Regions from separate parts of the Homo sapiens genome. Here region 2 is linked to region 1. The links come from fine-mapping of genetic effects on gene expression. A gene starts in region 1. The other region holds a variant in brackets. All regions are shown on one strand. Distances are between the middles of the regions.

The links. PIP is the estimated chance that this variant, and not a neighbour inherited with it, causes the effect. A credible set is the group of variants that fine-mapping cannot tell apart.
Region 2: its variant is the best candidate, but not a certain one, in a credible set for the expression of UHRF2 in whole blood (TOPMed, PIP 0.51).

The regions. Positions count from the first base shown.
Region 1 is chr9:6,400,506-6,417,128 of GRCh38, forward strand. UHRF2 (ubiquitin like with PHD and ring finger domains 2) reads left to right here and starts at 12,694. Exons shown (of 16, transcript NM_152896.3): 1 at 12,694-13,138. The coding sequence starts at 12,986. RefSeq lists silencers at 12,412-12,551, 12,832-13,011, 13,082-13,511.
Region 2 is chr9:6,537,104-6,550,166 of GRCh38, forward strand. It overlaps GLDC (glycine decarboxylase), which reads right to left. Exons shown (of 25, transcript NM_000170.3): 22 at 2,948-3,043. It also overlaps the pseudogene RN7SL25P. Among named protein-coding and RNA genes, the nearest start is that of GLDC, 100 kb to the right of the region's middle. The variant T/C (reference allele first, on the strand shown) is at 4,804.

The sequences.
Region 1 (16,623 bases):
CACCAATAGATAAAAATAAAAAGTCCCATTTTTCTAACAAGAACATCTATATAATTATGTGAATATAGGCATGCGTAAACATTTAATATACATACATTAAAGTGAACAAATCACAGGTGTATAGTTCAATAAATATTTATATATATAAACCACCCTGTGGTCACTACCCAGGTCATAATATAGAATATTATGATCACCTAGAAGGTTCCTTTGCACCTTTCCCAGTTAATACGACCAATTTCTCCACTCCCCAAAGTTTTTACTTCTAACACTATGAATTAAGTTTGCATATTTCTGAACTTTACATGAAGTTAGTCATACAGAATATGCTTTTTTTACTCAGTGTAATGATTTAGAGATCAATTCATGTTGTGGTGTGTATCAGTAGTTCATTCTTTTTTGTTGCTATGTAGTATTCCATTATGTAAATATACTATAATTTGCTCATCCATTCTCGTATTTGTAGACATTTAGGTGGTTTTCAATTTGGGCCAATTACAACTAAATCTATTACAAACATTCTTGTACCTTATTGGACATATGCACTAATTTCTATTGCATACATAGCTACGAGTAGAATTGTTCCTAGACTAGGTACATAGAAACTACCCAGCAGGTTTCCAACTTGGTTTAATCAACTCACACTCCACCAGCAATATATGAAAGTCCCAGATGCTCTATATTCTTGCTAATACTCAATATTATCAGCCTTCTAATCATTAGCACATGCTAGCGGGACATACATTTCCTTGATAGTGATATTTAGGATCTTTTCATAGGTGTGGAGGCCATTTAGATGTCCTCTTTTGTGAAGGGCCTGTGCCTATTTTTTTCTCTGCCCCTCTCCCACTGAGCCTATTTTTAATTAGGTTGTTGTTCACCCATATTATTAAAATTGTACATATTTGTGACACATTTTAAGAAACTAAATACAGTCATCCCTGGGTTTACAGGGTATTGGTTCCAGGACTCCCATGTATACCAAAATCTACACATGCTCAAATCCCACTGTAGGCCCTGTGCATATTTGAAGTCAGTCCTCCATATAAGTGGATTTCGAGTCCCTCCAATACTGTATTTTTTATCTGTGTTATATTGAAAAAGAAATCTGCATATAAGTGAACCAATACTTATCAGCCAAAAAGATACCGATGACCAGTTAATGCTGGTAAACTTTGATCTACCTTAACCTTTGTGACTCAGTGTAATTTTTTCTAAGCCTAACTAAGGGAAAATTATATATTTTCTTGAGTGACTCCTCAGAATATATCATAGTGAAAGACATTAAGGATTATTGTTTTGATTGTTTAAAATTAATAGTAATTGCTATGAATAGCAATTCATAAAAATTGCTTTTAAAAAATCACAATACAGTTGATCCTTGAACAACACAGGTTTGAACTGTATTGGTTCACTTATATGCCGATTTCTTTTTCAATAGATTTCTTTTTCAAAATTCAGATTTCTTTTGCAAAATTCAGCCTGAACCAGCAATGTATGAAACATACTCACAACAATAATTTGTGGTAGACTGAGGGATTGAAAGATTATGAAAAATAGAGGACAAGATGTTACCAAAGCTATAAAAGGTTATCAATGAGTAATCTATTAATCTATTATAATTAGGGTTAGGAAGAGATGGTGTTTTAGATTAATTATAAAGATGACCAGGCTGGGCACAGTGGCTCACACCTGTAATCCCAGCACTTTGGAAGGCCGAGGCGGGCAGATCATGAGGTCAGGAGATCGAGACCATCCTGGCTAACACAGTGAAACCTCGTCTCTACTAAAAATACAAAGAATTAGCCAGGCGTGGTGATGGGCACCTGTCTGCAGTTCCAGCTACTCAGGAGGCTGAGGCAGGAGATTGGCATGAACCTGGGAGGCGGAGCTTGCAGTGAGCTGAGATCGCGCCACTGCACTCCAACCTGGGCGACAGAGCAAGACACTGTCTCAGAAAAAAAAAAAAATGCAAAATTAACCAAATGTAGTGGTGCGTGCCTGTAATACCAGCTACTCAGGAGGCAGAGGCAGAAGAATCGCTTGAACCCTGGAGGAGGAGGCTGCAGTGAGCCAAGATCACGCCATTGCACTCCAGCCTGGGCAACAGAGCAAGACTCTGTCTCAAAAAAAAAAAAAAAAGATGACCATAATTATTCCCCTCCCAATATACACACTCCTTTGCAATGAGACTTTGCAGCTCCTCCTATCAAGAGGAAGAATCAATTTTCCCTCTCCTTGAATCTGGGCTGGCCTTGTGACTTGCTTTAGCCAATAAAATCTGTTGAGGTGATCCTGTGCCAATTCCAGTCTTGGACCTCAAGAGGCCTTGGAGGCTTCCACTGGCTCTCTTAGAACCCTATCCAGTCACTGTGTGAATAAGTCGAGGCTAGACCCACATAGTACACTGACAGATTATCTTGGGTAAGAAATACTCTGCCAGAAGATCCTGAGATGTGCATGGAGACAAGTTTGACGGGTTATAAATTGTATTGCAATTTACAAAGGAAAGCACTTGAGGCTGGGTTTGGTGGCTCACACATGTAATCCCAGCACTTTGGGAGGCCGAGGCAGGTGAATCACTTGAGGTCAGGAGTTTGACACCACCCTGGCCAACACGGCGAAACCCCATCTCCACTAAAAATACAAAAATTACCAGGGAGCAGTGGCACACACCTGTAGTCCCAGCTACTCGGGATGCTGAGGCAGGAGAATCGCTTGAACCTGGGAGGCAGAGGCTGCAGTGATGCAAGATTGTGCCACTGCACTCCAGCCTAGGTGAAATAGCAAGACTCCATCTCAAAAAAAAAAACAAAAAAAAAAAAAACAAAAAAAACTTGAGGTCAGGAGTTTGAGAAAGCATTTGCGTATCAACAAGAGCAAGGAAAATTCTGCCCACCTTTTTAAAAATGCATTTTTGTCGAAGCCCTGAAATCCTTGCCTGCCTGCCAAACAGTTTAGCTTTACTAATATCATCATTTTATTATATTATAATGGGATTTATTTGGATAATTACTTAGATAATTTGTTGCATTTTGTATATATTACTTTATACCACTTAGTAGAAAATAGAAAAAGTGAAAGTACTGCTTATAATGACAGTGCAATTGGGAGCAAGATGGACTCATTAAGTTTGCCAAAAGCAATAGTCAGCTGGCACAGTGGCTCACGCTTGTAATCCCAACACTTCGGGAGACTGAGGCGGAAGGATTGCTTGAGCTCAGGAGATGGAGACCAGCCTGGGCAACATGGAGAGAACTCATCTCTAATAAAAATCAAAAAAATTAGCTGGGTGTGATGTGTGCACTTGTAGTCTCAGTTAATTGAGAGGCTGAGGCAGGAGAATCACTTGAATCCAGGAGGTTGAGGCTGCAGTAAGTCCTAATCACACCACTGCACTCCAGCCTGGGCCACATAGCGAAATCATATCTCAAACAAAACAAAACAGCCAACCAAACAAAACCCAAAAGCAATAGTCATTAGTTTCAACCTAATGTTTATTGGACTAAAGATGATCTACTGTGTACTCAATAATTAAGGGAAATAACAAAATTAAAGAATATGAGAAATATGCTAGATTAACTCAACTCTTGCTCAAAAACCTCATTTAAATGATAGTAAAGGAATATTTAATGTAATTCAAAAGAACAGAAACAAGATACTAACACATCCTTAGAAGATGAAAAGCCTATGGATTACTTGTTGATCTCTACCCCAGAGAAACTCTGCACACAGTGGAATGTACAAGAATGTTTAGAACATTGTTTGTAAGAGTAAAAAATAGAAACAACCTGAATATACATCAAAAAGAGAATGATTGGCTGGGCATGGTGGCTCATGCCTATAATCCCAGCACTTTGGGAGGCTGGAGCGGGAGGACGGCTTCAGCCCAAAAGTTCCAGACCAGCCTGGGCAACATAGCCAGATTTCATCTCTACCAAAAAAAAAAAAAAAAAAAAAATTAGGCAGGATGGCATGTGCCTGTAGTCCTAGCTACTTCGGAGGCTAAGGTGGGAGTATCACTTGAGCCCAGGAGTTTGAGGTTGCAGTGAGCTAGAAACGTGCCACTGCACTCCACCCTGGCCACAGAGCAAGACTTCATCTTTAAAGAGAGAGAGAGAGAGAAGAGAGAATGACTACATTATGGTATACTTAAACAATGGAATATGATAGATTAGTAAAAATGAATGCCATGGAACTAGGGTCAGCAAACTGTGGCCCACAGGCCACATCCTATACTCTGATACCTATTTTTGTAAAAAAAGTTTTGTCAGAACAAAGTTTTATTCATTCATTTATATACTGAGTGGAGCTGCTTTTGTAGAACTGTAGAATGAAGTAGTTGCAATACAGATCATCTGCCTTCAAGATCTGACATATTTACCCTCTGACCCTTTAAGAAAAAGTTTGTACTAGAGCTACACGTCAACACGAACAGATCCCAGAAAACTAATAATGATTTTAAAAAAGCAAGTTTTAAAGTTATAAAAAAATCATGTTAAGTTTAAAAAGACACCCAAATTTATTATTGTTTAGAAATACACATACACATATTAAAAGTATAAAGATGCACATGACAATAATAAATCCCCAATTCAAGACAATGTTTATCTCTTTGGAAAAGAGAGAGAAAAGGGAATGTAAGCAGAGAGGGGTTTTAACTATTCGAAACATTTCTAAAGCAAGGTGGTGAATACAAGAGTGTTTACTATATTATTCTCTCTACCTTTTAAAATATGGCTAATATATTTCATAATTTTTTTTCAGAGATGGGGTCTTGCTCTGTTACCCAGGCTGGAATGTAGTGGCACAATCATGGCTTAGTGCAGCCACAAGCTCCTGAGCTCAAACGATCCTCCTGCTTCAATCTCCCAAGTAGCTGGGACTATAGATGTGCACTACCACATCTGAATAATTTAAAAAAATTTTTTGTAGACACATGGTCTCTGTAGGTTGCACAGACTGGTCTCAAACTCCTGGGCTCAAGCAATCCTCCCACCTCTATCTCCCAAAGTGCTGGGATTATAGACATGAGCCACCATGCCTGGCCCATATTTCATAATTTTAAAACTCTGTGGTTGTACTAAAAAGGGATTGAAAAATTAGATAGAAGAGTTGTGCAACAGATTCTATTTTCCAAAATTGGCTGCAATAATATCTTCCATCCCATGTGCTCTTCTTACAAAGTGACTTTGACACTCCTCCCACTGAGATGTGGGGTCTCTATTTACTCCCCTTGAAACTGAGAGTGCTTTTGTGAATGTTTTGATCAAAAGAATATGATAGAAATGACACTGTGGTCAGGCGTGGTGGCTCATGCCTGTAATCCCAGCACTTTGGGAGGCCAAGGCAGGCGGATCACTTGAGGTCAGGAGTTCAAGACCAGCCTGGCCAACATGGTGAAGCCCCGTCTCTACTAAAAATACAAAAATTAGCCAGACATGGTGGTGTGCCTGTAATCCCAGCTACTCGGGAGGCTGAGGCAGGAGAATCGCTTGAACCCAGGAGGCAGAGTTGCAGTGAGCTGAGATCACGCCACTGCACTCCAGCCTGGGCATCAGAGTGAGACCCTGTCTCAAAACAGACAAACAACACCAACCAAAAAAAAAAAAAAAAAAAAGAAATGACACTATATGACTTTCAAAGCTAAGCCACACAAAGTCATACAACTTCCACTTTGCTCACTAGAATTCTCACCCGTCTTTGATGTCTTCAACCACCATGTAAGCAGTCTGACTGCCCCTGAGGTGGCAATTCTGTGAGTGTCCAAACTAGCCCACAGAGAGAGACCACATGGAGAGATCCTGAGACTTCTTAAGGAAAGGAAGAGAGAGAGGAGACAGGAAAGAGGAGAGACAGAGAGAGAGACGGGGGTCGGGGGGCGAGAGAGAGAGAGAGAGACAGAGAGAGAGACCTAGCTAGGTCCTAACTAACCATGTCCTTGTTCTTCCAGTTCTGGCCCCATCTGATGATACTGGCATGAGAGACCTTGAGCCAGATTCAGGCTTTTAAACTGAGCCGTTTCTGAACTCCCGCTCCACAGAAACTGTTAGAGATAGTAAAGTACTTTTATTATAAATCTCTAAATTTTTTTTGCAAAGTAAGTTGCATGTGACAACCTAACTGGAAGTTGAACCTTAAGTTAACCCCATCATTAGGATGTTGAACCCTAAATGATGTCACACACAAAATTACAACAAATTTAAAGATCTAATTGTCTTTCTTTTGTGATTCTGGAATTGGGTAACATCTCATTCTATAAAACAGAATGGGTGTTCTTCCAAGCTGAGCAGAGGGGGTTGGCTTTATAGGCAAAGGGCTGAAGAAAGCAGAAAGCAGATTGACCGTTTCAAAGTTACTTTCCTCATACGGTTAAAACAGAGTGAACTTTTTTTTTTTTTGAGACAGAGTCTGGCTCTGTTGCCCAGGCTGGAGTGCAGTGGCACGATTTCAGCTCACTGCAACCTCCACATCCTAGTTTCAAGCGATTCTCTTGCCTTAGCCTCCCAAGTAGCTGGGACAACAAGCGTGTGCCACCACACCCAGCTAATTTTTGTATTTTTAGCAGAGACAGAGTTTCACCATGTTGGCCAGGCTGGTCTCGAACGCCTGACCTCAGGTGATCCGCTTGCCTTGGCCTCCCAAAGTGCTGAGATTACAGATGTGAGCCACCATACCTGGCCTAGAGTGAACTCTCTTATCATGCAGGCTCAGGTAAACTGGGGCCCCTCTGATTGGTGGCTGTGTTGCTATGAATTTCCTGGTTTATTTATTTATTTATTTGAAAACTAGCCCCTTTCAAAGTTCAGTTTTATTATGTGGCACTTAGCACAGGTGACTCCATGCTGGTTTGGTCTGGTCTGCTGGGGGTTAGTAGAGGATCAGTCTAATAATTTTTTTTTTTTTTTTAAACAGAGTCTCGCTCTGTTGCTCAGGCTGCAGTGCAGTGGCAGGATCTCAGTTCACTGCAACCTCTGTCTCCTGGGTTCAAGTGATTCTCCTGCCTCAGCTGGGATTACAGGCATGAGTATCTGGGATTACAGGCAAGCACCATCATGCCTGGCTAATTTTTGTATTTTTAGTGGAGATAGGGTTTCACCATGTTAGCCAGGCTGGTCTTGAACTCCTGACCTCAAGTGGTCCTCCCACCTTGGCCTCCCAAAGTGCCAGGATTACAGGTGTAAGCCACTGGCGCCCAGCCCTCCTAAATTTTGTTAAACACTGTCATCAGTATAAGAAATGAGCTAATTGATTCAAAGACCCTCAGAAATGTTCGGCAATAGGAATGACAAATTGCAGAAGGCAGAGGAAGGCATAAGATTGAAAATGGGGATACATTGCAAGTCTTTAGTGAGAATCCCAGGTCCCCACTCCTACCTGAGCTATCGGATTGTCCAAAGAACCAGGGTCACTCACTGCAGAAAAGAAGTTTATTCTTTGGACAAAGTTCAAAGTTATTTGGACAAAGTTCAAGGGGAAGCCTCCAGAGAAACAAGAGGGTCAATTGAAAGCTAAAGAACACTGGCCAGGGAGGAAGGAGACCAGAGGTTTAAACTTTAACACTCTTTCATTGGTTACATGTCCTTGTGCAAATCATTTCACCATTTGCTAAAGAGAAGGTTAGACCAGAATGAGCTCTAAAGTAGATTTTCATAGTAAAAATATGTGATTCTATTAAAAAGAAAGAGCACACTTTGACTAATTTAATATGACTAATTTAAGTAATGAGCAACCATATTAAGTGCTTTTTAGCCAATGGAAATTCTAGTGCATTTCTTGTAACATGTAGTCCTTTCTAAAATAGCATTAGAGATTATAATCCAAATCCTCCAGTTAAGAGAATTTAATGGTTTCCCCGCCCCATGGGACCAATGATAAGAGTATGGAACACGATATAGGGAATGGAAAGAATATGCATGCATCTAGGACTAGCGACTGCAAATATGTAACAACCCCTGAACCCAAAGCAACAGGGGAGGGAAAGATAGGTTACCAGAACATGGAAGAGCGAGTCACGTGGAGCAGGTCACCTGAAGAGGACAAGTGACATCATGCAAAGGCAAGAGACAGCCTGACTTGGTCTTGCAGGGAGAAAGCCACGGGAATATCCTGATCTCATTCTCTTCGTATCATGCAGGTTTTTGTCTGTGCTCCCTCCCCGTTGGTCAACCTCAGTTGGAAGCTTGAGGGTACTGCCTCTATATTCTTCCTACTCTTGGACTCTAGGACTGCAAACAGGTAGAGAGTGGCCCTGGAGGAGAAAAAGGAAGACATCCAACATAAAAGGGCAGATGAAAAGGTATTAATCATAGCTTCAGAGGATAGGTTGTAATTCATTCTTTAAAAATAAGTTACTGGCTTTGAGACAGTAGTTAAGAAACAAGACATTCTGAAGTATAAGATTCTGGAATTTGTTCTACAATCAACCTTTTTCTGTTTTGCCTCTTGACTTGAACAAATATTGGATCATGACTGATGGTACAAACTTTAGTATTTGCTTTTCATCCATGTAAATAATTTCTCTTTATTTTCCCTGTTCATATCCAAATGGTTTCAGCTACACACTTGGTAGTAAGGTATGATATGCCAAAACTGTCTTGGCTGAGCACTGTGGCTCACTCCTGTAGTCCCAACACTTTGAGAGGCTGAACCAAGTGGATCCTTGGGGGCCAGGAGTTTCAGACCAGCCTGGCCAACATGTTGAAACCCTGTCTCTACTAAAAATACAAAAATTTGCCAGGCGTGGTGGTGCATGCTTATAATCCAGCTACGTGGGATACTGATGCACAAGAATCGCTTGAACCTGGGAGGCACAGGTTGCAGTGAGCCGAGATTGCACCGCTGCACTCCAGCCTGGACAACAGAGTGAGATTCCATCTCAAAACCAAACAAACAAACAAAAAAAAACCCAACTGTCTAATATTGCTGTTTTTGTCAGAGAACTATTTTGTTTTTACAACTGGGCAGATGCCTAAGCACACAACAACAGTATTGCAGGCAAAGAGAGAAAACAGTACACAGTACTACATGGAGAAACACAGGAAGGGTGTGTTTTGTTACATATACAATCATTACTTGCAGTTATTTGTTTATACCCTAAGTCGCCTACTGCATATGTAAATTTATGTTTCCAGATGTAATTCATTTGGTCTGCAGGACAAATACATCATTTTTGAGTCTTACATCTCTAAACTCTGTGCTTAACAATATAGATTGTTTGGGATCTATACACAAATCCTATACAGTCTCAGTAGATACCTAATTTTGAGACAGTCATCTTATCCCCTCCCCACCCCTGCAGTTCTCCATTAAAGCCCCATCACATTAAGAAAGATAAATCTCATAAGAGTGTGTACAGGAGGTCTTAAAAAGTCCCTCTTTAAGAACTTTCCTATTTCTCTTCAATACGTCAAACTTCTATTTCCAGTGGTCAGTTAGACATCTCCAGCTAGACAGATGCTATATTTTGGATGCATTTCAAATGCAACACAGCTCATTTGGAACTCATTGTATTTTCCCGACTTGCCTCCTCTACAAGTTCAGAGCATCACCATCTGCTCGAGCCATCAATTTAAATCTCCTAAGCTAGAAACTTGGGAACTGTTCTCAACATTCCATTTTCCTCATCCTTTATATCCACAATCCTACAAGTTTTATAGGCTCAATTTTCTAGAATACTCTGGAATACATCCTCTCCTCTCCTACTTACCGCCACTAATTTCACCAAAACTGACACAATTGCCTCCTCTGTAAACTTTCTGACAATAAGTTCTCCCCTCATGTCCCTCTTCCTTACTTTTTCCCTAAGGCATCTGTCCAGATTCCTTTTGCTATTATTTCAAATGCATATTTAATTACATCCATCTACTCCTTAAAAATCTTAGTTTTTCCCTGGGGCCCACAAAAATCATCTGCTTTGAATGTTAATTTTCACACACTGCCCTTTTCTATTTAGTCAACCATTCTCTGATTTGCAGTCTCTTCTGACCTGTAAAAAATGCACACTTTTTTGTCTTTGTTTAAGCACTCTTTCCTCTTTGGGCATACTCTGTTTATCTAAATCTTCTCCATAACAGCAGTACTAAAATAATTTATTGTGTACTACTAAGGGATAGTATGCAAACCACTTTACAATCATTAGGTTATTTCAAGCACCATTTTACATTGAGGAAATTGAGGATGTTATTTGTACAAGATCACATTTTTAAGCAAGCAGTAAAACTGGGATTATAATTCCGGTCTATCTCAATCCATGAACTGAACATTTAAATGCTGCCTCCTACTACAATGTATCACATAACTCGTGTCAAGTTGTACAGTTATTTTTAAGCTTCCAGATCATTCTAGTTCCCCTTTTCTTAATCATTCTAGTTCTCCTCTCATCTGTAATCATGGTTTGCGCCAACATCAGTGTTTAGTACTAAGTTATTCTTTAATATTTTATTTTTGTTAAATCTTATCTCAACTAGATTGTAATTTGTTTTGTGAGAGGTAACTAAAAAAAAAATCCTAACGTAACTCCACAAAGCCATAGTATAACGTTATAATAGTAAATAGCATAACCTTATAATAAATAGTTTCGCCTTATTGAGGTAGGTAGTAAGTGTGCTTTAGGTAGATTTGGTTGGTGCAAATGTAATTGTGGTTTTTGCCACCGAAAGAAATGGCAAAACCCCAATGACTTTTGCACCAACCTAAATATCATCTCATTTACATATGTAATAAATACTCAATATTTGCTTTAATTAAAATAGGGGTAGACAAGTGAATTATATTTAGAGGTTCTAGGTGACTGAAATTTTCACAGGGGCAGAAACCCAAAATATGTATGTGCAGTTAATTTTTTCTGTCTCTTCTGTGTTGGGCCATCTTTTTTTTCTCTTTTTTTTTGAGATGGAGTCTCACTCTATCGCCCAGGCTGTAGTGCAGTGGCGTGATCTCAGCTCACTGCAGCCTCCGCCTCCCGGGTTCAAGCAATTCTCCTGCCTCAGCCTCCCGAGTAGCTGGGACTACAGGCAACTGCCACCATGCTCAGCTAGTTTTTTAATATTTTTAGTAGAGATGGGGTTTCACCATGTTGGCCAGGCTGGTCTGGAACTCCTGACCTCAAGTGATCCGCCCACCTCGGCCTCCCAAAGCGCTGAGATTACAGGCCTGAGCCACTGCGCCCGGCCTTTCTCTTCTTTTTCATGATATACTACTGGATTTGTCTGTGCTTGTAATTATTTTAGCTGTTTATTAGTTTATTACAAAAAAATGGTACTGTACCTTTATGGGAATAATTAGCACCTATGTGAATATTTAAGTTACCGATTTTGGCAAATGTGAAGTCCAAGTTGTCTTGTTTTGTTTACGTTTATATCCTCTCTCCCTTCTTGAGAAGACATATTTTCATTTAAAATAAACCCACTTGGCCGGGCGCGGTGGCTCACGCCTGTAATCCCAGCACTTTGGAAGGCCGAGGCGGGTGGATCACGAGGTCAGGAGATCGAGACTATTAGCCGGGCGCGGTGGCGGGCGCCTGTAGTCCCAGCTACCCCAGGGAGGCTGAGGCAGGAGAATGGCGTGAACCCGGGAGGCGGAGCTTGCAGTGAGCCGAGATCGCGCCACTGCACTCCAGCCTGGGCGACAGAGAGAGATTCCGTCTCTAAATACATACATACATACATACATACATACATAATAAATAAAATAAAATAAACCCACTCACCCCCACCCCGACTCCCCAGCTGTAGCAGGGAAGGATTAAGAAGGCGGGGTGGGGGGTGGGGGAAGCCCTGTTAGGTAGTGCTGCGTTGGGCCCACTTCTGAGGGTTTAATCCTAGTAGGGTCTTTGGAGTTCTTTCTTCGGAGGCGCGTAGCTCTGCATTATTTAAAACTGTTTCCCGCAAACCCGCAATCCCTTAGGCCAAAGGCACCCCTAACGCGGAAAGTCTACGAACGGAAATGTCCGGAGTTAGAGAGCGGCCTTTCGGGCAGCTGCCCCGACTTCTCCAAGGCCGGAGGGCCGGCTGGGAGCGCTGCAAGCCAGAGAGGGCGATCCCAGCGGGACCCGCGGCCTGAGGATAGGCCTGGAGCTGCCGCCTCCGCCAGGCGACGGGAAACCCTCGGAAGTGGGTTTCCGCGCGAAAGTAGCATTGCGGCCAGGCGGGAAACGTGTTCGCGAAGCAGGAGGGCCCCCGGGGCCTTTCCCGGGCGACCCGACCCGCCAGGCCGCGTGGCGGGAGCTTTCCTGTTGAGCGCGGTGGAGCGCACACATTTCCTTCAGTTCTTTCTCGGAAGTTTAGGCCGCACCCACCCGCGCCCCCTTTCCAGGATTATACAAGTGCACGCCAGGGTTTCTTATTTTTGGTGTGTTTTTGAGACCAAAGAACCATATCCGCTAAGCCTGAGGAGGCACCCGCCCCCTCAGCTCTGAAACGAGGCCTCAAAACGGCAACCGATGTGGTAGCCGCGCAATCTTCCGAAACCCAAAGGCTAGAGGGCGTGCCCAGTGGCCAGGTGCAGGCGGTGGGGCAAGTAACGGCTTTTGGTAGCCCCGCCCCTCCGACCCGCCCTCTCCGCGCCTGCCCATTTTCGTTCCCTCGGGTCTGTAACCCTCTCCCGGGCCGCTTCCTCTTTAAGGCGGAGCCCGGCGTGGATCTCGCGAGATCCGGCTTGGCGCCGTGACCTCCATGTGGGAGCTCCAGCTCTATAAGTAAACACTCTGCGCGGCGCAGACATGGCCTCTTCCTATCTTTGAGGCGGTGTCTGCGGCAGCGCCTCAGAGTGGTTCCGGTCGTCTCTCCTCAAGTCGGCTAGTCGGGCGCGCGCGCTGAGAGTCGTCGCCGCCTGTCGGGCCCGGCGTCCGGTCGGTCCGGTGGGCGCGCTCGCCCGCCTGCCGCTGAGGGCCCGAGCCGCAGGGAAAGCGGCGCGGGCCGGGCGGGGCGCGGCGCCCAGAGCTCAGGGGGAGACAAAGGGGACCGGTTCCTCTCTAGGCGCCAAGATGTGGATACAGGTTCGCACCATTGATGGCTCCAAGACGTGCACCATTGAGGACGTGTCTCGCAAAGCCACGATTGAGGAGCTGCGCGAGCGGGTGTGGGCGCTGTTCGACGTGCGGCCCGAATGCCAGCGCCTCTTCTACCGGGGCAAGCAGGTGAGGCGCGCCCGCCGCGCCCCTAGCGAGGCTGGGGGCCGGAACAGCTGGGCTCCTCTGGACGCACCGGTCCGAGGGCTCTGTGCGCCGCGCGCGCAGGGCTCACCTGGCTCCGCTGCGGGTGGGCAGCCCCCGCGAGGCGCGGGGTGCGGGGCCCAGTCCCGCCGAATGGTGGGGAGTGGGTCCCTGCCAGCCCCAACTGGAGGTGCGCCGCGCGGGGTCAGAAGTGAGGGCGTCCGGAGCGCAAATATCTCGCCGTTTGTATTTGGTAGGACAGCGGCCGTAGGCACTGGGTGCCCAGGTCCCTCGCTTCCCGCGCTCGGCGGGGCCTGGGGCCCCCAGAGGGCGGGGAGGGCAGAGGGCTCTGGCGGCCATGCCACCGCGCGGGAGACCCGGAGAGCTGGCTAACCCGGCTGAGCGTTCGCCTGGCTTCCGCGGCTCTTCCGCGTCTTCGGCTCTCAAACAGGGGAAACTCGGGCATTGAGCTCTCAAGAATAAGAACCCTAACTCTGCTTCCTGACTGTGGTAGGATTCGCGCAAACTGAAGATTCGAAGGGTTTCCAGAACTTCTGGTCCCTCTCCCTCGCCGCCTTTCCTAGGTTTGGAATGTCTCGAGGGAGGTTAGAGACCTGGGCATGAAGAAACTGTCGGTTTAACCGGGGGCCGGGTTTACGAATGCCCTATATAAGCCAAGAGTTTTATTCCCGAAGTGAAAAGGAGTGTAAGACTGTTTGCTTTTCTTACTTCTCGCCTTCTAATACTCATGTCGTTCACGCTTTAAGCATAGCACTGCAGCATAGCCAGCGGTGCATACTTGAAGGCTGTCTGTGGGCATCTCTGGTATTTTTATGGTCTGGCCAGTCTAAGTTTTTTTCCTATTCCACAAGTCTCTTACAATCTATATCCCTAGCCACTCAGACCCATCGTATTTTTCTTTGTCTTCATGTTGTTGTTAATACACTAAAAAGTTGGCATCCTGAGTTGATAGACCACAGTTTGGCTCCAATCCTGTGGTTTTAAATAAGTGTAGCTCTTTGATTTGGTAGAAGTAGCCTACAGTTGCAAACTACTTAAAAGGAATATTTTCCTCCCCTTCACAGGCTTAGTCTTCGAAGACTGTCCAGAAATTTCATAGTAACAAATTACACTTTGGGAAGGAGAGAGCTTTTTTTTCCCCTTTCCTTCTCTCTTTAAAATAATGTTATAGCACCTTTGATTTGTGTTTGCAGCCAGTTTTGTACTGACTTCTTAGTGTTTGACTTGTAAAAACAGGTATTTAGTTGTAAGCTTTGCTTTTGAAATAATTGTACACTTGTTAAATACTACATAGATTTGCTTTGCTGTGCCTCAAGTGGCTGATACCGTTTCCTTTTGATCACAAGTGAAAAAGCATGTAATCGTTTGATGCATTTTATTTTCTAGCTGGGGACAAATAGTACATGAATTCCTAGGACACTGGTGATTTCAGCACCAGAGATAGAAATGAAGGATGTTCTTGGGCAACACTCCTAAAATCTTTATTATCAAATATGCTAAAATAATTATCACATATGGGATTGGGTTAAATTCAAGGCAACAAAGTAGACTTTCAGTAAACTAGGAAGCTCATTCCAGATTCCAGGGAAAACTGAGGATAACCGTTGTACTTCCTCTTCCAGGGTCCTAGTGGGTAATTCACTACTTGGGTTTCTTCAGCCCAGTGATAAACCAGTAGGGTAGAGGAATAGACCTTTGGTGCCAGCCATTAACTTGGAAACAGAAAAGGAAGGTCATTGGTACCAGCTGTGTGTTCACTTTCTTATGCGCTGACAAGTAGCTATGGCAATGAGTGTTATCTTTCGTGGTCTCTGGAGCTCCACAGATGAGGTAGCCAGCCTGTAGCAGGTAACTACTGGAATGGCATCACAGAGAGTCCCCGTCCTGTAAAATACCATGTCCTCATTGGAAAAAGGTACCCCTACTTCAAAATACTTTACTGCCACGTAGTGAAAAATGTCATAAATTGTAGACAATACATTTATTTTTATTTAAGTGGTACCCGCCCCCCATACTCCATTCGTATGTTAGGCTCCAGCTTTTAATCTTTGGTATGTATCAGAATCGCTTGTGGATATTTATTATAGATGTTCAGCTCACCCCAGAACTGCAAGTAGTTGAATTTAACAAGACCCCACGGGAGATTCTGATAACACCAGAGTTTAGAAAATGAATGTTGATAGATAGTCTCCCACTAGTCTCTTACTATTCAAAGTATGGTCCCTGGATTCTCAGGACCAGCAGCATTAGCTTTACCTGAAATCCTCACGCCAGACCTACTGAAGCTGACCTACTGAAGCAGAATCTGTATTTTAACAAGATCTCCAGGTGATCTGTATGTAGGTGAAGTTGGAGAAGGCAGTGTTAATTGACTCCACTTTTTTTGTTGTTGTTTTTGTTTTTTTTTTAAGCCGGAGTCTTGCCCTGTCGCCAGGCTGGAGTGGCGCGATCTCGGCTTACTACAACCTCTGCCTCCCGGGTTCAAGCGATTCCCCTGCCGCAGTCTCCCAAGTAGCTGGGACTACAGGCGTGCGCCACCACTCCCGGCAAATTTTTTGTATTTTAGTAGAGACGAGGTTTCACCATTTTGGACACGATGGTCTCTATCTAGGACAGGACCTCAGGTGATGCGCCCACCTCGGCTTCCCAAAGTGCTGGGATTACAGGCGTAAGCTACCGTGCCCAGCCTTGACTCCACATTTGAGGGTCAAAATGGAGACCTGCAATTCAGGGCTATAAGTTTTGGTTAGAGTAGGATAACATGCTGTGAACATTCTTATCTGGGAAGTTGAGTTTGAGGCACGCGGGGGATTGGGTCTTTTTAAGGAAGAGATTATGTTGGTGGATCTCTAAATCTTTTTTTTTTTTTTTTTTTTTTTTTGAGACGGAGTCTCGTTCTGTCGCCCAGGCGGGAGTGCTGTGGCGCGATCTCCGCTCACTGCAAGCTCCGCCTTCCGGGTTCACGCCATTCTGCCTCAGCCTCCCGAGTAGCTGGGACTACAGGCGCCCGCCACTGCGCCCGGCTGATTTTTTGTATTTTTAGTAGAGACGGGGTTTCACCGTGGTCTCGATCTCCTGACCTCGTGATCCGCCCGCCTCGGCCTCCCAAAGTGCTGGGATTACAGGCGTGAGCCACCGCGCCCGGCCTAAATCTTTTGAGAATCCAGAGCTTTTCCTATTTTAAAGGATTCTCTCTCGTCATTCTTTCACTCCTTACCACTATAGAGGTGGTCTTAAAATAGATAACAATGTGGGGCATGAACTATAGTTGAAGAAAAAAGTTGCCTCTCCCACTTGGTTTTCACACAGAATATAAAAGTACTTGCCTATTTAAAGGAATATCTATGTATATATTATATATGATGTATATAACATATATAATACACACATATATAATATGTGATGGATACGTGAAAGTTGTTTTGCCCTTCACTGGCATCCCTAGTCAG
Region 2 (13,063 bases), 130 kb after region 1:
CACTGCAGCCTCAACCTCCTGGGCTCAAGTGATCCTCCCACCTAAGCCTTCCAAGTAGCTGAGACTACAGGTGCACGCCACCATGCCCAGCTAATTTTGTTGTTGTTGCATAGACAGAGTTTCACCATGTTGTCCGGGCTACCGAGCTCAAGCGATCTGCCTGTCTCTGCCTCCCAATATGCAGAGATAACAGGCATGAGCCACCACACCAGGCCTATGAAACTTTTAAAAGCTGAAGAACAACTCCCAGGTTGATACACCTCTGAACTAATCTTGCCCCAATGTGCAGTGGTTCTCAAATTCTGGTGAGCATCATTATTACATGGAGTACTTTAAAGTAACATCTGCATGATTTCAAACATTCTCTACCAACATTTTATTTAAAAATGTTCAGGCCAAGTGCTGTGGCTCACACACCTATAATCCCAGCACTTTGGGAGGCCAAGGCCAGCGGATTGCTTAAGCCCAGGAGTTTGAGACCTGCCTGGGCAACATGGCAAAACCCCGTCTCTACAAAAAATACAAAAATTAGCTGGGTGTGGTGGTATGTGCCTGTAATCCCAGCTACTTAGAAAGCTGAGGTGGGAGGATCACTTGAATCCAGGAGGTGAGCCTGCAGTAAGTCAAGATCACAACACTGCACTCCAGCCTGGGTGACAGAGTAAGACCTTGTCTCTATTAAAAAAAAAACACTAACATCCAGATGAGTTGAAAGGACTGTAGGTGAGCACCCATATACCCACCACCTAGATTCTACAATGCTGTTGTTTGCTTTATCACATCTACTCATCCAGCCATCCGTCTTACTTTCTGACGCATTTCAAAGTACACTGCAGTCATTAGTACACTTCACTCTTAAACCCTTCAGCATATATATCATGACTAGAATTCAGTATCTGTTCACATATTTTTGTGATAAAACTTACAGTGAAATGCACAAATCCTAACTGTACCATTTAATGAGTTTTGGTAAATGCATACACCTTTGTCACTCAAACCAGACAGGGATTTTTTTTTTTTTTAAGAGAACAAGCTGATTACCTATCACGTCTGCCCTTAATTCCATGTGTGAGCAAATTCAGTCCAACATATCCTGCTGTAGTGGTCCCCATATTTTGAACCACCTGAGAAGTTCTTGCAAAAGAAATTCCTGCATCTGGGCCCTGATTCAGGAAGTCCAAGGTAGGGTCCAAAAATCTATGAGTCATAAAACATGCCAGGTGATTCTGATAATTGGTCTGATAATTAGCCTGGAACTGCTGGGTAAGGCAGTATGCCCCAAAATTGCCTGAAAAGACTCACACAGAAGCTGCGTGTTAAATATACAGATTATCAGCTCTCTTCCTTAAAAATTCACATTCAGCGGTTATGCTTTAAGACCTGGAAACTGTGTTGTCATGTTCATTGTTTTTCGACTTAGCTATTCATTTGGTCTCTCATTTATTAACACTATGTGTTGAGTGCCTACTATGTGCCAGGCACCTGGACAATTCTGGGCTTTTGGACAAGTGTGGAAACGGTTCTATCAATCTTCAAAACAACATTGAGGTCAGGAGACAACATGATTCAGAAACACTGGGTGGTGACTTCAGTTACCACCTCCCTGTGAGCCCCTCCTCTCTCTCCTTGCAAATGCTGTTGCAGTTAGATGTGTGAAGTAGGCAAGGCATCCACAAAGTGAGTGTGTTTTCCTGAGTCGGCCATTACCCAATCGCTAGCCGGGAGGCTGTCAGGGGAAAGGAGTTCTACTGTCAGGTTACAAGAGTTGCCAAGCAGAGATCTTGAGGATGGGATTGGTAATTTCATTAATGAAGCCTTTCTCTGGCTTTCCCATCTATTATCAGTGTAACTGCATAATAAGATCATTCATTCAAGAGAGGAGTGAGTCACACACATGGGATTCCCATTATGATGCAGTAGTGAAACTATTAAATTTAAAAGATTTTTTTCTTTTTTTCCAAAAACAAGTCATTAAAACTCAGAGAGGACTCCATATCCATTGAATGGCAATGTTCTCCCCAACTTAGCCTTTCTGAGAATTGAAAGATCCTTGATATTATTATCATTTTCATATTATTATAATAGTAATATTGGCTGGGCGTGCTGGCTCACACCTGTAATCCCAGCACTTTCGGAGGCCGAGGTGGGTGGATTGCCTGAGCTCAGGAGACTGAGACCAGCCTGGCCAACATGGTGAAACCCCATCTCTACTAAAAATATAAAAAAATAGCTGGGTATGGTGGTGTGCACCTGTAGTCCCAGCTACGTGGGAGGCTGAGGCATGAGAATCACTTGAACCCAGGAGGTGGAGGTTGCAGTGAGCTGAGATCACATCACTGCACTCCAGCCTGGGCGACAAAGTGAGACTCTGTCTCCCCAACCCCCAAAAAAGTAATATGGTCTTAATATTTTAATATTAATAACATTGTTCACTAGGAAAATGTAGTGAGCTGAGCTGAATGAACACCCACTAATGCACAGGTAAAGTGTCCGTGTCTTTCAAAATGCTTCAAAGAAAGTTGCATTTTCTTTGTGAAAACTACTACACTTATTTCTTCATCTCTAGAAGCAGCTGAAACAGCTACGCCATGACAGAGGTGGCTATAAAACTCCAATGCCATTTGTCTCTACCACTTCGATGGGTTACTTGCTCTGTCTCCTTTACCACTACACTCACTGCAACTCAAAGGGGTTTTAATTTTAATCTTAAACACTTTTCTTGGCTGTTAATGGATTCAAGATGCATATTTTAATATCTTCTGAAGGGCAGGACCAGTGCAGTCATAAGCAAACTTTTTTCTCTATTATTTTGGAGGTTGCCAAGAACCCTGAGCTCCCCATTTATCCCCCAGATCAGTTTACTGTGGTGCCTGCATTTTCCATTTGTGCTTTAGGAAGTGGTCCACAGCCAGCATGGGCGGCGGCATGAATGTCAAAAGCCACTTACCATAATCCTGGAGTCTCTTGGCCACATCCACAGCCTCAATATTTGCAGACTTTTTGAAGGGTCTCGTGTCCAAAATAAATTCATGACCCACATAACCTGTTCAGGAAAGTTGTTTCAGCCCAAGATTAGCATCAGCTTATTGTTTTACCCAAACAAATGAATAAGTAATTTAATAAATAAGTGCATCAGCTTTTTATGTGTATCAGCGAGGACCAAGAAGCCATGGGCACCGGGTAAGTTTATTATTGGCAATAAAGGTTTCATTTAGTCTTATTACAAATAAAAATGTTTAGCACACTGTGCCGATGTGTCTTATCTTCAGCTCACTACACACCTGTGAACCTGATTATGGCTAATGGCAGGTGGGGGGCATTACTGAACATATGACCGGAGGTGTCTGGGGATGAGATTATTTCTATTCTGCGGACATAAAATCTACTTGCAACAGTTAAATGTGTTGTATAGTCCTGATCCTTTTATACAAAATATTTCTAGAGCCATTGACACTTTTCAGCAACTTTACCCTCAACATCAAATAATTACTTTTGCGTATATATAGGTATGGATATATTAAACATATATCCATAAGACACATACAGAATTTTATGTTTCTTTGAAGGACCTTTTGATGTTTTGGTTTCAGGCTGCAAACAAAGAATTAGAAATACGCGACGTCAAACAGTATACCGTAAGTAACAAGGAGTTAATGAGGCCAAAGTCTGTGCGACCCAGTTCACTTTGTTCTACCAATGACATATCCCTTATTTGAAATTACAGATCTTTATTTGAGCCTCATGTGGGCACCCAAAAGTTTTGGATTTTCAGGCCAGGCACAGTGACTCATGCTGGTAATCCCAGCACTTTGGGAGGCTGAGGTGGGCAGATCGTTTTAGATCAGGAGTTCCAGACCAGCCAGGGCAACATGGCCAAACCCTAGCCCTACTAAAAATAGAATCACCTGAGCCTGGGAAGTCGAGGCTGCAGTGAGCCGCGATCACACAACTGCACTCCAGCCTGGGTAATAGGGGCAAGACCCTGTCTCAAAAAAATAAATATAAATTTTTAGAAAAAGTTTTAGATTTTCAGATTAGGGATATTCGACCTGTAGTTCATAAACAGGCTTCTTCTCTAGGTCCAGGCTGCCAGTAGCTCCCCAGAATGAGCTACTGACCACACAACCATCATCAGGAATAAACCATTAAGTCAGCGTTTTAATAAATAGACCAATATTCCTCCGGGGCTTCCCAAATTCCACGGTCCACCAACTGATGAATTTCCTTCCAGGAAAGTATCTACTCATGAGATAATGATGTACTCCTTCTTCTTAACCCACTTTCCTCACTCTCAGCAAAAATGAATCCACTTATAGAGACTCAGAGCAAGCATAACTTCTCAAGCCTGTGAAGAATAGCTCCAGTAATTAATAGCCCCTGAAGACAGTCTACGAACTGCTCTGCTTCTTATAGAATGAATAAACATGAAAGAGGTGGAGCTGGGCTCATTGGCTCACACCTGTAATCCCAGCACGTTGGGAGGCTGAGGCAGGCAAATCACTTGAGGTCAGGAGTTCAAAACCAGCCTGGCCGACATGGTGAAACCCTGTCTCTACGAAAAAAAAATTACAAAAATTAGCCAGGTGTAGGGGCGGGTGCCTGTAGTTCCAGCTACTCGGGAGACTGAGTGAGAGAATTGCTTGAACCTGGAAGGTGGTGGTTGCAGTGAGCCGAGATGGCACCACTGCACTGCAGCCTGGGAGACAAAGCGAGACTTCATCTCAAAAAAAAAAAAGAAGTGGTTTTGTTTGAAAATAAAACTATAAAGAGCGTAAGACTCTGAATATACTGAAACTGCATATT[T/C]TTAAACCACGCTTGAAGAAAAAAAAAAAAAACTTCAAAAACATTGAAATAGGGGCCAGGCGCGGTGGCTCAAGCCTGTAATCCCAGCACTTTGCGAGGCCGAGGCGGGCGGATCACGAGGTCCAGAGATCAAGACCATCCTGGCCAACGTGGTGAAACCCCATCTCTACTAAAAATACAAAAATTAGCTGGGCGTGGTGGCGCATGCCTGTAGTCCCAGCTACTTGGGAGGCTTAGACAGGAGAATTGCTTGAACCCGGGAGTCGGAGGTTGCAGTGAGCGAAGATCATGCCACTGCACTCCAGCCTGGTGACAGAGCAAGACTCTGTCTCAAGGAAAAAAGAAATTGAGACACAGTTGAGCGCTCCGTCACTCAGGCTGGAGTGCAGTAGTGCCATAACAGCTCACTGCAGCCTTGACCTCCTGGGCCCAAGCAATCCTCTCAGTTCAGCCTCCTGAGAGTAGCTGGGACTACAGGTGTGCACCACATGCCCAGCTAATTTTTGTATTTTTTGTAGAGATGGGGTCTCACTATGGCTAGGCTGGTCTCAAACTCCTGGGCTCAAGTGATCCCCCCACCTCAGCCTCCCAAAGTGCTGGGATTACAGGCCGTGAGCCACTGCGCCCAGGCAAAACATGCTTTCTAACAATGATGGGGAATAAACTGTAAGGAGTATGATTCAAAAGCAGAAAATTCAGCCGGGCATGGTAGCTCACACTTGTAATCCCAGCATTTCAGGAGACCGAGGCAGGAAGATCGCTTGAGCCCAGGAGTTTGAGACCAGCCTGGGCAGCATAGTGAGAGCTTGTTTCTACAAAAAAACAAAAAATTAGCTAGGTGCAGTTGTGCCTGCCTGTAGTACCAGCTACGTGTAAGGCTGAGGTGGGAGAATCATTTGAGCCCAGGAGGTCAAGGCTGCAGTGAGCCGAGATCACATCACTGCATTCCAGCCTGGGTGACGGAGTGAGACCTTTTCTCAAAAAAAAAAAAAAAAAAAAAAAAGAGGTAGAAAATCCTATTCATGGGTAGGTAAACATAGGGAAAAAATGCTGAAACAGAATAGTAAGTGGAATGTTCAAGGGGAAAATCATTAGACTAAGTTTTTATCAACTATTAATACCAGGACTCTTAAATGCTCAGCTGAGGATTGCTTGAGCTTGGGAGTTGGAGACCAGCCTGGGCAACAAAGCAAGACCCTATCCTACAAAATATTTAAAAATTAGCCAGGTGTGTGGCAGACATCTGTAGTTCCAGCTACTTGGGAGGCTGAGGTGGGAGAATCGCTTGATCCCAGGAGGTTGAGGCTGCAATGAGCTATGATAATGTGACTGTACTCCAGCCTGGGTAATAAAGCAAGACCGTCTCTTAAACAAAACAAAATGCCCTGATTGTGACAATGATTGGAGGACGAAGGCTAATGGAAGCTCACTGCTCGGAATGACACCAGACAGCAGGGAGGGGAGGAGGGGAGAGACACAGTGGGGGAGGAGGCACTCTTGCTGGCAGCGCAAGAGGAGAGTCTTCCAAGCAGAGGTTCAGTAATAGCTGAAAGGCACCGTCAAGCCAAGCCCAACACAGCACTGCTAATACTACAGTGCCATCTGAAGAGGTCCCCACCATAGCCAAGAGGTTTAGGAAGAGCTCCATTTTCTAAATGAGGTTCAGATGTTATTTTCTAAATCCATACTCTATTGCGTTCAAATAGAAACTGCGGTGGAATTCCAGCATCTCTCTCCATCTCTATGTGAGCCCTGAAAGGGATGAAATTTCAACTTGGTGGCTGTCAGAAGCCAGATCCTAAGATGTTCTTTGCAGCTTTTAGGACACACAAACCTGCTATAGGGCAATGTTGGGGCGATATCAAGTGGAAACTGAATAAACCACTCAGCACCAACTTTTCGTGTTAACAGAGTAGGTGTTTCTGCTGGACCTAACAGTGACTACAGCTGAGAAGGTACCACGTGAAAGGGGCAAGGAGGACAGGAGGGGGGGGGATGAAGGAAAAGCAAGGTAAACGTTGGGTGGCTATCTAAGTGGGAACCACCGCCCCCATATGTTGATTGTCTTCTGAGGGTAAGAACAATATGGGAGTGTGCTGTGAAAAAATAGGGCTGCTCAAAACCCTCCTTGAGAGAAGGGACCAGACCTTACTTATCCCCCATCCTCAAGGCGGCTGCTGAGGAATAAATGAACTCACTGGGTAACTACTCTGGAAAGCTCTGCTGGGCAATCAATGCTTGGTCAAGCCTTTTAGCTGAAATCCACAGAACATGACTAACAGAATCAAACCTCCCGGCTGTTTCCCTGTAGTTCAAGCGAGAATGAGGTTTCCCCGAGAATGAGGTCAGGTAAGCGGGACTGAGCAGGGTCACTTGTGAGCCAAGGATGTGAGGGCCCAGCCCCTGAGGCCCCTGCCCACCCATACAGCAAGGGCCACCTGGAAACCTCCGCAGGGACAGGTATTTGCAGGCAAAGTCGCTGTTTGTCTGATGGAAAAACAAAAAAAAAGGCAGAAGACCTGAGGTCAAGATTTCAAGATAAGCCTAGCCAACATGGCGAAACCTCGTCTATACTGAAAATACAAAAATCAGCCGAGTGCAGTGGCGGGCACCTGTAATCATAGTGGGAGGCTGAGGCAGGAGAATTGCTTGAGCCGGGGAGGCGGGGGTTGCAGTGAGCCGAGATTGCACCACTGGACTCTAGCCTGGGTGACAGAGCAAGACTCTGTCTCAAAAAAAAAAAAAAAAAAAATGGATAGGCATATAAGAAATTAAAACATAAAGAAAACGTTGGGATACTAACAAAGTCATCTCCTCCTACTAATGGGAACTCCATTCAGATCAAACCTTTGCCTCCTATAAAAGTAGACAGCTGTGGATTTTTGCAATTCTTCCTTTAAAATGTATCAACTTGCCGGGGCAATGGCTCACACCTGTAATCCCAGCACTTTGGGAGGCCAAGGTGGGTGGATCACCTGAGGTCGGTAGTTTGAGACCAGCCTGACCAACAAGGAGAAACACTGTCTCTACTAAAAATACAAAGTTAGCCAGGCATGGTGGTGCATGCCTGTAATCCCAGCTACTCAGGAGGCTGAGGTGGGAGAATCGCTTGAACCCGGGAGGCAGAGGTTGAGGTGAGCTGAGATTGCGCCATTGCAATCCAGTCTGGGTAACAAGAGCGAAACTCTGTCTCAAAAAAAAGAAAAAAAAAAAAGTATCATCTTACCTGAGGTAATTCCTTTCTTTCCTCATTCTAGCAGAATACAGTCATGCATCACTTAATGAAGGGAATACGTTCTGAGAAGTGCATTGTGAGATGACTTTGTCATTGTGCAAACAGCATGGTGTACTTACATAAACTAGTTGGTAAAGTCTACTATATATACCTAGGCTACATGGTACAGCCTCTTGCTCCTACTGTACTGAATACTGTAGGCAATTGTAACACAATGGTCCGAATCTGTGTATCTTAACATATCTCAACATAGAAAAGACAGAGCAAAAATACGACATAAAACATAAAAAATGGTACATCTGTGTAGGGCACTTACCATGAATGGAGCTTGCAGGGCTGAAGTTGCTCTGGATGAGTCAGTGAGTGAGTGGTGAGTGAACGGGAAGGTCTAGGACATTCCTGTATACTACCATAGACTTTGTGAACGCTGTACACTTAGGCTATATTAATTTATTTAAAAAAACTTTTTTCTTCAATAATAAATTAACCTTAGCTTACTGTAACTTTTTTTATTTTTGAGACAGAGTCTCAATCTGTTGCCCAGGCTGGAGTGCAGTGGCGCAATCTCGGCTCACTGCAGCCTCCTATTCCTGGGTTCAAGCGATTATTATGCCTCAGCCTCCCGAGTAGCTGGGATTACAGATGTCCACCACCATGCCTGGCTAATTTTTGTATTTTTAGTAGAGACGGGGTTTCACCATGTTGGCCTGGCTGGTCTCGAACTCCTGAGTTCAAGTGATCTGCCCGCCTCAGCCTTCCAAAGTGCTGGGATTATAGGCGTGAGCCACCATGCCCAGCGTACTGTAACTTTTTTACTTTATAAACTAAATTTTTTAAACCTTTCTGACTCTTTTGTAATAACACTTTAAACACAAATACATTGTACAGCTGTACAAAAATATTTTCTTTTTCAATGTCCTTATTCTATATGCTTTCTTCTATATTTAATTTCTTTTTACTTTTTAAACTTTTTTGTTAAAAACTAAGACACAAACACACACCTTTGTCTAGGCCTACAGATTCAGGATGCTCAATATCATTGTCTTCCACCTCCTCATCTTTTTTTTTTGAGACAGTGTCTCACTCTGTCACCCAGGCTGGAGTGCAGTGGCACCATTACAACTCACTGCAGCCTCAACTTCCCAGGCTCAAGCAATCCTCCTGCCTCAACCTTCCAAGTAGCTGGGACTACAGGTGTGCACCACCATGGTGGTTAATTTTTTCTTTTTTTTTTTTTTTGGAAGAGACAGGTCTCATGATATTTCCCAGGCTGGTCTCAGACTCCTGGGCTCAAGCAACCCTCCCGGCTTGGCCTCCCAAACTGCTGGGATTGCAGGCATGAGCCACAGCACCTAGCCCCACCTCCGACATCTTGTCCTCTGGAAGGTGTTCAGGGACAGTAACACACACGGAGCTGCTATCTCCTGTGATGACAATGCCTTCTTCTGGAATACCTCCTGAAGGACCGCCCTGAAGCTGTTTTACAGTTAACATTTTTTTTTTACAGTAGAAGGAATACACTCTAAAATAATGATGGGGGCCAGACGCAGTGGCTCACGCCTGTAATCCCAGCATTTGGGGAGGCCAAGGTGGGAGGATCACCTGAGGTCAGGAGTTTGAGACCAGCCCGGGCAACAGGATGAAACCCTGTCTCTACTAAAAATACAAAAATCAGCCAAGCGTGGTGATGAACACCTGTAGTCCCAGCTACTGGGGAAGCTGAGGCAGGAGAATCGCTTGAACCTGGGAGGCGGAGGTTGCAGTGAGCCAACATCACACCACTGCACTCCCACCTGGGTGACCAAGCGAGACTCTGTCTCAAAAATAATAATAATAATAATAATAATGATAAGAAGCATTATGTAGTGAATACATAAACCAGCAGCATAGTCTTTATCATTATTATTAGGTACTATATATTAAATGTAAGTGTCATACTTTTAGACAACCCGCCTCAGCCTTCCAAAGTGCTTGGATTACAGGTGTGAACCAACACACCCGGCTGCTACTAAATAAAATTAAACGTGAGGAAGTTTAAAATATGAACAAATAAGCAATTAGGGAAAAAACCAATAGGATGCAGTTATATGTCTTTTTAAGATATGGAAACAACATGATTTTAAGCTGTGAAATCAGAGAGTCAGCTGTGAAGGAGAAGGAAGTAGACAGAACAGATGGGGGAACACAGTTACCCTGGATGGACAAGGCTGGCACTAAGAACTAGGGAAACATTGAGCGCATTGGCTACATATACTAAAACAATAAGGTCATTTTCACCTATCAAATTGGCCATGATATATTGTTTACTTGTTCTTCTGTCTAGTTCTCAGTCCTCACTAGGCCCCTGTGTGATGGCCACTCTCATATGTTATCACTGTGAGATAAATTGGCACAAAGTCTCTGGGAAAAAAATTGAAGCCATACATGTCAAAAGCTTCAGTGCATTTATATCCTCTGAGATAATAATTTTTTCTATGACTCTCTCCTAAGGAAATTATCAGGCAAAATTCTTTAAAATTTCAAGCAAAGGATACTCACGGCCACATTGTAATAAATGCAAACAAAGGGAAGAAAAACTATACAATTGGTTAAATCATGGCACATCTACACAATGGAATTGACAGTGCCACTTTCAAAGAATATTTAGTGACAGGGGAAAATGCTCATAATATACATTTAAAAAATAGGCTAAAAACTGTATTTGTAGGCCAGGTGCAGTGGCTCACACCCATAACCCCAGCATTTTGGGAGGCCGAGGTGGGAGGATCACTAGAGCAGAGGAGTTCAAGACCAACCTGGGCAACAGAGCAAGACCCCGTCTCTACAAAAAATATATATATAAATAAATTAGCCAGGTGTGGCGGGTGTATGCCTGTGTTCCCAGCTACTTGGGAGGATGAGTTAGGAGGATGACTTGAGCCCAGGAGCTGAAGATTGCAATGAGCTGCCATGGCACCACTGCACTTCAGCCTGGACAACAAACTAATAAAACTATCTGTAGTATGATCAATTGTACAAACAAAGAGGAGAAGAAATACAGAAAATATTAGTAATGGCTATAACTGATTGATGGAACCATGGACCATTTACATTTTCTTTGTCATGCTTTATTATTTTCCAAAATGTCCGTGTTGAGCATATATACATTATTTATGTAATCTGATGAAATAAATATTGAAGCTATTCCTTAAAGCCAATACACAAGCAGGATACATTTCACAGAGCAGGAGCTAAGCTAGATTTGAATTAATCAGAAGCTCTTGTCACTTCTTTAGTACCCACTTCACAGAAGCATTTTATTGTGCTGCTTAGAGACATGTTGCCCACAACTGTGTTTTCTGCTCTCTGGGGAGCATTTTAACCAGCACTTCTGGTTATTTGGTCCTATTCTTTTTCAAACTGTGGAACCACCCCTTTGGATACTGATTTATAAGGTAAGACCAGCCATTAAATTAAAGATCACAGCTATAGAGCTACATTCCACCTGGACCAGAGAAACCAAGATCCCATAAGCGCTTTGTTGCTGTTGCCCAGGTGCAGGCGGGTGGGCTGGTTCCTGACGTCTGTCTCTCTGATCTAAGCTCCAGGTCCTGGTCTCTGTCCTGCTCTTACTCTGGGCCCATAGCAAGGACTTGTACCTGGTTCTCAGTTCCAGCCTTTCCCTTCCAGGGTGACTTTGTTCCCCCATCTGTTTTTCTCTCAAAGGTATCTTTGCTCTCCCTTCTCACAGCTTAAAATCATGTTGTTTTCATAGTTAAAAAGAAAATATAACTACATCCTACTGAAGCAGCCCCCTCCTCCTTCACTACCTGCAAACATGGAATCCTTTTCCCCTCTCCTTCCCGACCTCCATCCACATCTCAGCCCATTTTAAACACCCAGCGTCTGCCTCACCATTGTGCCCAAACTACTTTCAAAGGCTACCAAAGGCTTCCTAATTGTTATAGACAAAGGTTCCTTTTAAGACTCATAATTTAAAATCAGATGTCAATCATACCTCAGTAAAAGCAGAAAAAATCTAAATAAACTTAAGTAAGATTAAATCAGCCACCCGCTCTTTACAGTGTCTCTCCTTATTATGCGTCATCACGTGCATTTGTCTGTTGACTGCCAGAGAAACAAAGCAGGCGCAGCCTCCACTCTCTCCTGGACCCTGGAGTCAGATGGACAGAGCCAGACAATACCAAGTGGGAGAGCAGCTGCTCCGGGGTGGGGTCGGGGGTGGGCAAGAGGAGGGAGTGGAGGCTGCAGGGAGGAGGTGGAGCCACACGGCAGCAGGAGGGCCAGGCAGGGGTGTTGAGGGAGAGGCACTGTGCCAAGCACTGCCAGGGTTCTAAAGCTGCCTCAGGTGTGGAGTGCCCCTCACCAGGCACCCAACTTCTCCCTCCCTCTTAATGTAGCCATCTACTTGAGGCGTTTTGTTCTGGCTTCTCACCTTCAATATTCTTTCCTGGGGCCTCACCACTTCCAAGACTCAGCTATTAGGTCCTGAGCCCACAGCCCAATGTGTAAAAGGATGCCTGGTTTTTAGTTCCCTCCCATCACTTCCAGGGTGACTTTGTTCCCCTGCCTATTATTCCCTCTACTGTAAGCCCTAGAGGCTAGCTAACCTTCAATCACAGGTGTGATTACAGGATTGCAGGTGTGAGCCACCACCCCAGCCCCTTGCTACCTCTAAGGCATGTTTCCCCCTTGCCGCCGTCTTAATGATTGTAACGGTCTCTTCATGAATCCCTACCCTCCCCTGCTCAAAAACCTTTAATGGCTATTGTCCAGCTCAAGGGTGAAGTCCAGAGCCTTCCAAGGCCTTCAAGGCCCCACGCTACATTTCCAGCCTCATTGTCATTTGCTCCCTCTCCCCTATCCCATCCTTCACTCCAGACCAGAGAGCTTTCTTTTCTCTGGTTTGCTCCTGTGTCTCTGCTTACTCAGGCTCTCATCGGCTACGCTGGCTTCCAGGCCCATCTCAAATGGCTCCAGCAAGAAGGCGCTGTCAACCATTCTATCCTGCCTCTACCCAGTCTG